3 linked regions of the Homo sapiens genome follow. The protein of the gene in region 3 interacts with the protein of the main gene of each other region in a biochemical or structural test. Each region holds a gene or a part of one and is shown on either strand. Other genes may lie near its edges.

The links.
Region 1: the proteins of EPS8 (region 3) and ITGB2 form a complex in vitro, tested with the Homo sapiens proteins (one study listed by IntAct).
Region 2: the proteins of EPS8 (region 3) and NR5A1 interact in a surface display test, tested with the Homo sapiens proteins (one large-scale study listed by IntAct).

What each region holds. Positions count from the first base shown.
Region 1 is NC_000021.9:44,893,400-44,897,050, reverse strand, and holds part of ITGB2 (integrin beta-2 isoform 1 precursor), read left to right. Parts: intron 1-1,990; coding exon 1,991-2,080; intron 2,081-3,506; coding exon 3,507-3,647; intron 3,648-3,651.
Region 2 is NC_000009.12:124,500,749-124,504,399, forward strand, and holds part of NR5A1 (steroidogenic factor 1), read right to left. Parts: intron 2,663-3,651; 5' UTR 2,648-2,662; coding exon 2,546-2,647; intron 2,473-2,545; coding exon 2,331-2,472; intron 1-2,330. UniProt on the Homo sapiens protein: Transcriptional activator. Essential for sexual differentiation and formation of the primary steroidogenic tissues. Binds to the Ad4 site found in the promoter region of steroidogenic P450 genes such as CYP11A, CYP11B and CYP21B.
Region 3 is NC_000012.12:15,619,595-15,622,623, forward strand, and holds the end of EPS8 (epidermal growth factor receptor kinase substrate 8), read right to left. Parts: intron 1,837-3,029; coding exon 1,723-1,836; 3' UTR 540-1,722; downstream 1-539. UniProt on the Homo sapiens protein: Signaling adapter that controls various cellular protrusions by regulating actin cytoskeleton dynamics and architecture. Depending on its association with other signal transducers, can regulate different processes.

The sequences.
Region 1 (3,651 bases), on a different chromosome or scaffold from region 3:
TCAGCGCAGGGCAGGGCTGGGGCCGGACATCCACAGAGACCACCTGCTGGTCAGGATGTCACAGCCCTGTGTCCCATCTGTAGGTGGCCATGACGGTCCCCTCCTCACCAGCAGTAGCAGGTCCCAATCCTTTGCCATTTGTCATGGCAGCCAGACTCCAGGCGATGGTGTGGCACCAGGGCCAGGCACTGGAGGCAGGTAGAGTGCACCCCATGCCTACTGCTGAGCCTTGGGGCACACAAGCCTTCCTCAGCCTTTCCTGGTCACCTTCGGGGGTGGTCAAGGCAACAGGCAGCGAGTGTGGACACACGTGCCACGCCCCCTCCGAGTGTGTTTCTGCACCAAGCGCACAGCAGGCTCAGCAGGACAGGATGTGGGAGGGCCCAGCTCTCCCAAGACAGGGATGGCCCCAGACTGGGACGGATGGAAGTGGGCGGTGGGCGGAGGGCGCAGAGGAGGGTGGTGGCCAGGCTGTGACCGGCCCCAGGAGCTCCATGGAAGGGACTGGGCCCATGCAGGGCAGTCATGGGAGGGTTTGGGCGGGGAGGTGACCCGACCATCTGCTCCGTGTTCCTGGAAGGTGAAATGATGCCGCAATCTTCCATGAAAGAAGCTGAGCATGTGTGAGCATGGGGGAGGCTGGCTGCGCCCCTGTGCATCTGGCCGGCCAGAACCGATGTCACCGGGCTGTTTAACACCCATGGAAACTCAGTAGAGTGCCAAGAGCCGATGGCTTCCTGGTGATTTTACTGTGATCCACCCTCGTGGGGCTACTTCCGCCTACCATCTGTGTGGTGGTAGGAATTCCCTACCTGTGTGGTGGAAATTCTGGCCAACACTGGCCACCATGCACGTCCTCCCAACCCAGTGATATTGCGAGCTTGAAATCCACCAGGCAGGATCACTCACACCACAGGCAGGAGTACTCACACCACAGGCGGGAGCAGTCACACCGCAGGCAGGATCACTCACACTGCAGGCGGGATCACTCACACCGCAGGCGGGAGCACTCACACCGCAGGCGGGATCACTCACACCGCAGGCAGGAGGACTCACACGGGCAGGCCTGGACAATGCTGCAGCTCAGGGCTTTGCTTTCTTTTCTTATCCTCATGATGCAACAGTAATTTTTTTTTTATTTTTTATTTATTTTATTTTATTTTATTTATTTTTTTATTTCATTTCATTTCATTTCATTTCATTTCATTTTATTTTATTGAGACAGAGTTTTGCTCTTGTTGCCCAGGCTGGAGTGCCATGGTGTGATCTCAGCTCATTGCGACCTCCGCCTCCTGGGTTCTCCTGCCTCAGTCTCCTGAGTAGCTGGGCTTACAGGTGCCCACCACCACGCCCAGCTAATTTTTGTATTTTTAGTAGAGACGGGGTTTCACCATGTTGGCCAGGCTGGTCTCAAACTCCTGACCTCAGTGATCCACCCACTTTGGCCTCCCAAAGTGCTGGGATCACAGGCGTGAGCCATCATGCCTGGCCTGGGTTTTTTTTGTTTTGTTTTGTTTTTTTGAGACAAGGTCTTGCTCTGTCGCCCAGGCTGGAGTGCAGTGGTGCGATCTCAGCTCACTGCAACCTCCACCTCCTGGGTTTAAGTGATCCTCCTGCCTCAGCCTCCCGAGTATCTGGTACTACAGGCATGTGACGCCACACCACTCTAATATTTGTACTTTTTGTAGAGATGGGGTCTTCTTATGTTGCCCAGGCTGGTCCTGAACTCCTGGGCTCAGGCAATCTTCCCACATCGGCCTCCCGAGTACTGGTATTCCAGGCGTGGCCCCTGGGCAGCTCAGGGCTTTTTACCCCCAAGAACCTCTTACCACACATCACTGACCACACACTCTGGGGACCAAGTGCAAAACTGCGTTGAGGACCGTCCCAGCCATTTTGCAGGTGCAGAAGCCCCTGGGGTGAGCCCAGTGCGTGGAGATGCCGTGGCACAGGTCCTAGCCGTGCCATGTCTGGTCTTCTTGCCCAACAGAAACTCACCGAGATCATCCCCAAGTCAGCCGTGGGGGAGCTGTCTGAGGACTCCAGCAATGTGGTCCATCTCATTAAGAATGCTTACAATGTGAGTCTCCCGCACCACTCAGCTGGGACCCATGGGGTGGCCAGCAATCTCCCCACTGCAGGTCAGCTCCTGCTGCAGGTCAGCAGGAGGGTGGTCTGGGAGGAAAGCCCCTGCCCCGTGGGCCAGCTGCAGCCTCCCGACCTGCCCTCAGGCCTCCAGGACACCCTGGCCCGGCACTTCCACGGGGAGCTCTGGGTCCTCTCTCGTTGATGTTGTGGGCGATGCTCCCTGAAACCTGAGCTCCGGACTCTTCATTCCAGACTCTTCTCTGCGGGTCTCTATGGAGAAGGGAGGTGGACAGCTCTGGTGGCAAACAGTGCAGCTGGGGCAGGAGGAGGCCACAGGAAACCCCCACAGTGGACTTGGGCCCTGGGAAGACACCCTGGGGGGTGGAATTCCTCTTGCTCTGTTCACCTGTCCTGGGCAAGCTCCAGAGAAGCCCTTAACCCCTGAATTTCTCCCTGGTGCACGGCCCATCGAGCTGCACCCTGGGCTGCTCCCCTGGGGAGCCCATGGCCCTGGTGGGCATAGGTAGGCATAGGTGCGCACTAGGTGCCATTCAGGGCCCCAGGCACCAGAGGTCCCGACTGCTCTGGAAATCTACCCCCAGGTGAGAGATGTTCTCAGAATTCTGGCCTGGATCCTTCTAGGCCAAAGGTCCTGCTGGCTTGAGGGAGCTCAGCACGTTAGCGCCTCCGACAAACGTTGGGTCATTGAATTAAACTGAAGGCCCGTGGAGGAGGTGCCATTTGCTTCTCGTAGCCTCCCGTGAGCCCCAAACCCCCAGAGCAGACCCTCCTGGGTGCCAGCCACTGCCCGAGGTGTTTCTGTCCTTACACAGAGGATGCAGGTGACGCCACTGCCCTGGCCATTCACCCGATGCCCCTATGAACCTGTCCCTCTGCCTCCTCTCAATTTCCGTCTGTCTCTCAGTCTTTGTCTCTCTTTCTCTGTCTCTCTCTGTCTGTCTCTCTCTGTCTCTGCCCCATCTCTGTCTGTCTCTGTCTCTGCCTCTCTCTGTTTCTCTCCATCTCTCTGTCTCTGGCTCTGGCTCTGCCCATCTCTGTCTGTCTCTGCCTCTCTCTGTTTCTCCCCATCTCTCTTATCGCTTGAACAATTTATGCAGCTCCTGCCCTGTGCTAGGTCCTGGGGACTCAAGGCTGAGGAGCAGCAGAAGCTCCCACCCCTGAGGCTCACACCCTGGCTCCATGCTAGTCCCTGTGGTCAGGCTGTCTCGAGGGCAGGACTGTGGCCCTGGCAGCCCTGCCATCCTCAGCACATCCTGCTGTGCTCTCCTCTGTGTCATTAGCTGACACTGGGGACTTGCACTGAGAGGAGAAGTGGAGACGGGTCTAAACCGCTGGGCCAGGCAGGGCCAGGACAACAGAAACACTCGCCCCCAAGAGTAACCGCTCTCTGCCCGCAGAAACTCTCCTCCAGGGTCTTCCTGGATCACAACGCCCTCCCCGACACCCTGAAAGTCACCTACGACTCCTTCTGCAGCAATGGAGTGACGCACAGGAACCAGCCCAGAGGTGACTGTGATGGCGTGCAGATCAATGTCCCGGTGA
Region 2 (3,651 bases), on a different chromosome or scaffold from region 3:
CTCTAAGCCCCCTTCCATGCTGCCCCACCACAGATCCTTTCCAAACAAATCTGACCGCTCTCTCCCCTGCTCAACACCCTTTCATGGCTCCCACTGACCACAGGGGAAGTCAGTCTCCTTTGCCTGGCATTCAAGGCCCTGCTCAGCTTTTCAGGCAATCCCTGCTAAGACCCCTCTCCTTCCACTCCACCGAACTCACCTCCACTCCTCTGTTTGACACATCTCCTTCCTCCTCCACCCTGCCTTTCATTTTCCTTCTGACTCAAACTTTTTTTTTTCTCTTGTGCTTGCTGAACACCCAGCCTCAATGTCACTACTTCCAGGAAGCACTCCTGGATTCATGCAAACGGGCTCTACTGTCCTTGCCCCAGGTGCCCTGTCCTTGCCCACTCTTATCATGCTGAGTGGATCATGCCATGTGCTCCTGCGGGCTAAGTTCTGGGCTCAGGTGTCTAGCATAAGGCCTGGCAGGGAGATGGTGACCGGAAGGGGACCCTGGTCAGCCTTGTTCACCGCTGGCCCCAGGGTCCAGCTGTTTGTTGACTGACTGCCTGACTGTTGAGCTCCTGCTTCAAAATGACTCAAGTATCCTTCACTGGCTGCGAATGTGAAGCCAAGTTTAGAGCTGGCCAAGGCTCTATGCTGGGGGAGGGGACCTCTCTTGCCGACTAGAAGCTCCTCCGCCTGGCGAGGAATGTGTCATCAGCCAGACCCAACAGGTACATCTCTGCAGCTGGAGTGTGCCCCCCGCCCCTGCTCAGACAGGGCCCCACCCTGGGATCTGGGCGAGGGGAAAGAGCAGGAGAGAGGGGGTGGTGGTGCTCAGCAGGGATGATGGCTGGGGGGCTGCCTGGCCAATCTTCCTGCCCCCTGGGGTGGGCAGCGCTGTGCTGCTCGCAGGCTGCACGGGAGTTTCTACTGCCCACAACAGCCAGCTATCTGGCCCCTTGGGACCTGGCACTAGGGGCATGGGCTCTGGGGACAGGACAGGATGTCCCCTCTCCCATCCAGGAGTCCTTTCTCCAGGTGGCAGGGCATGTGGTCCACCACTCTCAGAGCCACCTGGGGCTTTCTACACTGTTCCAAGACCTTAATCAACCACTGCCTGTTCAGCACACAGTCCAGTGACCGGCCACCTCCAGAAGCTCAAATCTTTCCTGCCAAAACTTACCTCCTCCTCTCTGGGCTGAGAGCTGGGGTTGAGGGTAGGGAGGCAAAGAGGGGCCTGGGTTTCTTGGGGGCAATTCAATTGTCCCCCACTGCCCGGCCCCCTCAGGGCCTGGCTAAGAACATGACGGGAAGGAATCTCACTGGCTGAGCCAATAAACCAGAGAGCCCTTTGGATGGACGGACAGACAAGCAGATGGGCAGCTGAATGTGTGGGGGCTGGGCGGTGGTGGTGGGCAGATCCTAATGGAAAGCGTGATGGGCTTGACAGCTAACCTGCGGCAATGAACGCCTAGGCACCTTCAGCTTGCCTGCACCGATCCCCACACTCACTCACTGGAGGAAGGCGCTGCCGTTAAGCCCATTTTTCTTTTCTTTCTTTCTCTTTCTGCCTTTTCTTTTCTTTCTTTTTTATTTTTATGTACTTATTTTTTGAGACAGGGTTTCCCTCTCGCCCAGGCTGGAGTGGAGTGGTGTGATCATAGCTCACTGCAGCCTCGACTTTCCAGGCTCAAGTGATCCCCCCACCTCAGCCTCCTGAGTAGCTAGGACTACAGGCACATGTCACCACGCCCAGCTACTTTTTTATATTTTATAGATACAAGGTTTCTCCATGTTGCCCAGGCTGGTCTTAAACTTCTGGGCTCAAGTGATCCTCTTGCCTCAGCCTCCCAAATGCTGGAATTACAGGCATGAGCCGCTCCATCCGGCCAAGCCCATGTTTCACATGGGAAATCTGCGGTTTAGAGAGGTTAAGGATTTTGCCCAATGTCACCCAGCCTGACTGACAGTGCGGGCACTGGGACTTGGCCTCTGCTGGCTGGGGTTGGGTATTTTGGGGGCATGGGGACCTCCTCACAGAGGGAGGAGCTCTGCCGACCCTGTGCTGGGGCCCTGGCAGGGGCTGGGGAAAGAGTCATCTCCATAGGGTTCACTTTTGGATACTTCTCAGCCCAACCCAGGCTGGCCTTGCCAGCGTCCCTTCCCCGCCCGAGGCCCACCCAGCGCCAGCGCCCGGTTCTCTTGCAGCGACTGGGCCCTAATGTCGCACGAGGGGCCTTCGCGAAGGCCAATGGTACTATCCCCTCAGCCCCTCTCCCACCCCCACCCCCTACCCCCTCAGGCTGTGGGGGGTCAGGGGTCGAGGCCCGCGCGGCGCGCACCTTCCAGGCGCATCCCCACCGTCAGGCATTTCTGGAAGCGGCAGAAGGGACAGCGCTTGCGCTGCGTCTTGTCGATCTTGCAGCTCTGGCTCTCGGTGCACGTGTAGTGCTTGTTGTTCTGCACCGTGCGCTTGAAGAAGCCCTGCGGGAGCTGAGAGTCAGCGAGGCCCCGCAGCGCCCGTCTGCCGCACCCCTGCCGCGCGCTCGCCGCTCACCTTGCAGCTCTCACACGTGAGCAGTCCGTAGTGGTAGCCGGACACCTTGTCCCCGCACACGGGGCACAGCTCGTCCAGGTCCTCGTCGTACGAATAGTCCATGCCCGCGGCGTCCGCCTGCGGAGGGACAGCGGGTCAGGGAGGGCCGGCGGAGACCGGCAGCCTGGGGTCCCCGCGGCCGCCGCCCCAGCCGCTGTCGCCGGCCCGTCGCGTAATCCCCTCTCTGTGCCCAGGCGCTGCCGCCGGCACCCACCGAGCGCCCCGCGCAGCGTCCCGGGGTGGGTCCGGTGCAGTCCCCGCGCCCGGCCTTCCCCTGCCAGGCCCCACGCTCCCGCCCCGTCCGGGGGGCTCCTCCCGCGCGGACCCCGTCGCGCCCGATCTGGGGCCCTCGGGTTCGATGCGCTTCGATTGGGATTCGTTTGTCTGAGAACAAAACCCCGATTCTGAGAAAAAGAGATGGGCTCAGCCGCGGGGAAGACGCCAGGGGACCCAGGAGCGCTGGGGCGCCCGGCCCGGGTGTTCTGGGAACCCGACAGAGACGAAGGAGGCAGAGACAGAGTCCGGGGGAGCCAGAGATGGGAAGAAACTCTGGCGAGAGACAACGACCGACGCCACCGGGCGCAGACACGAGGCCAGTCCGAGAGTGCCAGAGACACAGACACTGAGACGCCCAGCTAGAGAGAACCCGGCGGGGACGAGACACAGGGAGGGATGGAGAGAGACAGGGAGACAGAGAGAGAGAGAGAGAGAGAGAGAGACGAGAGAGAGAGAGAGAGAGAGAAACGAGGGGTGGGGGATTGGATCAGAGACTCGGAGAGACAGCGGAGGCCCGAAGAGAAAACCCAAGAGAGACTGACGCAGAGCCAGAGACACAACGATAGACGACAGACAGAGACGCCGAGACGAGAGGAGCCCCGGAGAGACGAGGCCGGGGAGCTACAGAAACACGGAGAGAAAACCTGGAGGCGGAAGCGCCCAGCCCGAGGGTCGGGGACAGGGGACGCGCGGAAACCTGCCGGGCAGGAGCCCAAGCGCCAAGGCGAGGCCCCGCAGGGTCGGACCCAGACGGGGGCCCGGGCCGCAGGAGGCGGAAAACGACGGCGCCG
Region 3 (3,029 bases):
TATCTTAACTTTTGGATCTTATTTTCTTTCATCTTATCCCTTTCAATAAAGGCTAAATTATACATATGTATCAGTCCTTATGAAATGTAAAAGATCTAAACTAATTCACCTTTATCATGCTCATGTTTGTTCCACTTTATCCAAAGGGCAGTGTTATAGAGAGACCGAGAGATAGAAGATGAGAAACTCCCACATCCTTCAGGATCTGGGGAAAATTAGCTTCTAGGAAGCTAAATCTCCTCATCTGTAATAATTCATATAGAGTTGTTGTAAATATCCAGGAAAGCATTTATATGGAAGCATTTAGCAATCGTAAGCGCAGTGTAAATTAGTTCCATTACCATTACCAAATATGACTAGATGGTAGAAGGAAAAGATGATGAAACAAGAGGCGAAAAGAAGAAAAACAACCGAAAAAAGTATTCTAGAGTTTCTCTACCCACTCAGAAATAGAATAATATATAGTTTTTTTAAAATGTGGATCTCTACTTTTTCCCATTGCATTCAACTCGAATCCTCAGCCGATCTAGCACAGATCCTTTTTGCTAATGAGACAGAAACCATTTATTAACAGACAGCAAATACTGTTTATTGCAGACTTTCCAGCTGACTCATGTGAAAAAGGCACTATGAAAATTAATGAATCTAGATAATTTCTCTAAATGATTTATGTTAAAATATACAACATTCTTACATAACATCTGTTTTATATATGTGAAATAATATAACATTTAATGACAAAAATTGTGTTTCCAAAAATAACATTTGTTGAAGGTTAGGTATCTTTCTTTTCTCTATGTGGAATCTTTCACAGGATTAAAATATGTGTAAATTAAGTGCTTCTTATTACCAGAAATACTTGACACAGATAAACACATAAAATGGCCCCACTTCCTTTTAACTACTCATATCAACATTCAGAACTGAGGCTTTCATTAAGCAAAATACTGTAATGCACACCAATGCAGACTACTTCCTTTGCTAGATTTTGAGAAGACATGACCTCTTTCGCATTTGTGCTTTCTCATATATAAGAACACAGTATACATAATAAGCAGAATATAAACTAAATCAAAATACAAGCTATACAAGGAGTTGCAATCAACAGAGCCATGACAAACTCTCTTGAGAATGCTCCATAGATTTATATTTGCATGTCCAAGGTATGGCTGTACTTTACAGTTCATTCAAATGTTTTAATTTTTTTTTAAACTGTTGGCATTAAGAACTTTAAATAAATCTAAATATTCTTCCATTGAGTATGTCAGAGAAGAGACTTAAGTAAGCAGAGGCTAGCCTACAGTGAGCTATGCCCTGAATGACAGACACCATATTCACAGGCAAAATCGAAACTGCTTAGATTTTGAATCATGGACAACATTGTTGCTTTGTTGCAGTGAATAACTCCACCACTATCAAAACAATTCCTGTTTATACCCTGGGATGGGGATAAAATAATTAGTCTAATTAAGGAAACTTCACCTTGGTAAAGTAAGAAAAATATTTTCCAAGGTCAAAAAATTCAGTTTAAATTTTTTCAGTTTTAATAAAAATAATGGGCCTAGAAGCAAATCCTGTGCTCACTCAGGTTTGCATGGGTTTTTTTTTATGGTGATAAATTACATCAAGAAAAATGAATCTGACATTCCCTTCAAGGCTTCTTAAAACAAAGCATGTTGGAATAATGCCAAAAACAATGGAGTTTAAATACAAACAAACAAATTAGTGACTGCTTCCTTCATCAAAAGATTCCACTCCTGAATCACTAGCGGCAGCACTGATTTTTTCCTGTCGTCTTCTCATAATTTCTTGTAACTCGGAGCTGCCACTGCTATCCTGAAAGATAAACAGTTCAGACAAGATAGTTACTGACTTGTGCAGGCTGCAGGTCATATCATGAAATGGCTCAGGATAAAATTCTACTGTGGTTTTCTTCTAGTATCTCTTTAGGAAAGCTAACAGCTCTACTTTTTAAGTGAAGCTTCTGCACTTCACTAATATATCACATTAATAATTTTTCATTTTGTAAAGTCTGTTAAGGCAATTCACTCACCAGGCCTTTCATTTGAACATGATAAAGATAAATCAATAATGTATGTATAGTACTCTAGGTTTGCTGAGAGAAAGAGGAAATGTGTACAATAAGCATAATAACATGGTAAATTATCAAAGGACTCTTTTGGGCTCAAACAAGATACTGATCTGCCTTTAGAAGATTTTAACTCAGGCCAGAGTGGGCTCAGAATTCACCCAGTTTCCCCTCCATATAGTTCTGACCCTCCGACCATGCTGGCTTTTCTCCTTTCCCATCAACAGAAGTCTCTGGCAACACAGGCAAATAATCTAAAAGATTAACTAGATCCAAGGAAAGGGTGAGGTGGTAGAAGGTGGCTGAGGAACATGAAGAACCTCAGGTAGTCAGCCTCTGCCTCAGTTCCCATGCAGAGAATAGGAAGAGAACAAGAAGCAAGAGACCATCCTGAAGTGGGTGGTGACAGCAAATGACAATAATGATAGGCAGGTGTGGGATGAAGGAATTCAGAATTTTAGGAATATGGCATTTTCTAACATACCTTGAAGAAGTAATTATATACTCTCAACAAAATTAAATATAGTGGTAATAAAACTGCTTGAGAAAAATATATAATCCTTATTAATATTCAACATATGGAAAGCAATCAAATCAAACTTTAATATGGAGCCTTCAAGATCAATGTTGTAGGGAAAACCTCCAAGGGAAATATGGTTTCTCTTGATTCAGAATGGCTACGGGGTGATACGCATGAAGTGATTTTACCCTGAATTATTTAACTGTTGAATTTATAGAATATACCTGCTAGAGATGATTATGGATCAATTTCATGCCAAAGCCTACATTCTTTCATTTGAGTCCAAGTATAATTTTCATGAAACTATTAAGAGCTGTGAGATGTAACAGTTGGAAACTACTACCCGTATATAGCACATTTTAAGTCTAAAATAGGATATTGGAAGCTTAAGTATAAAGCAATCTAGAAAACATGACTCTC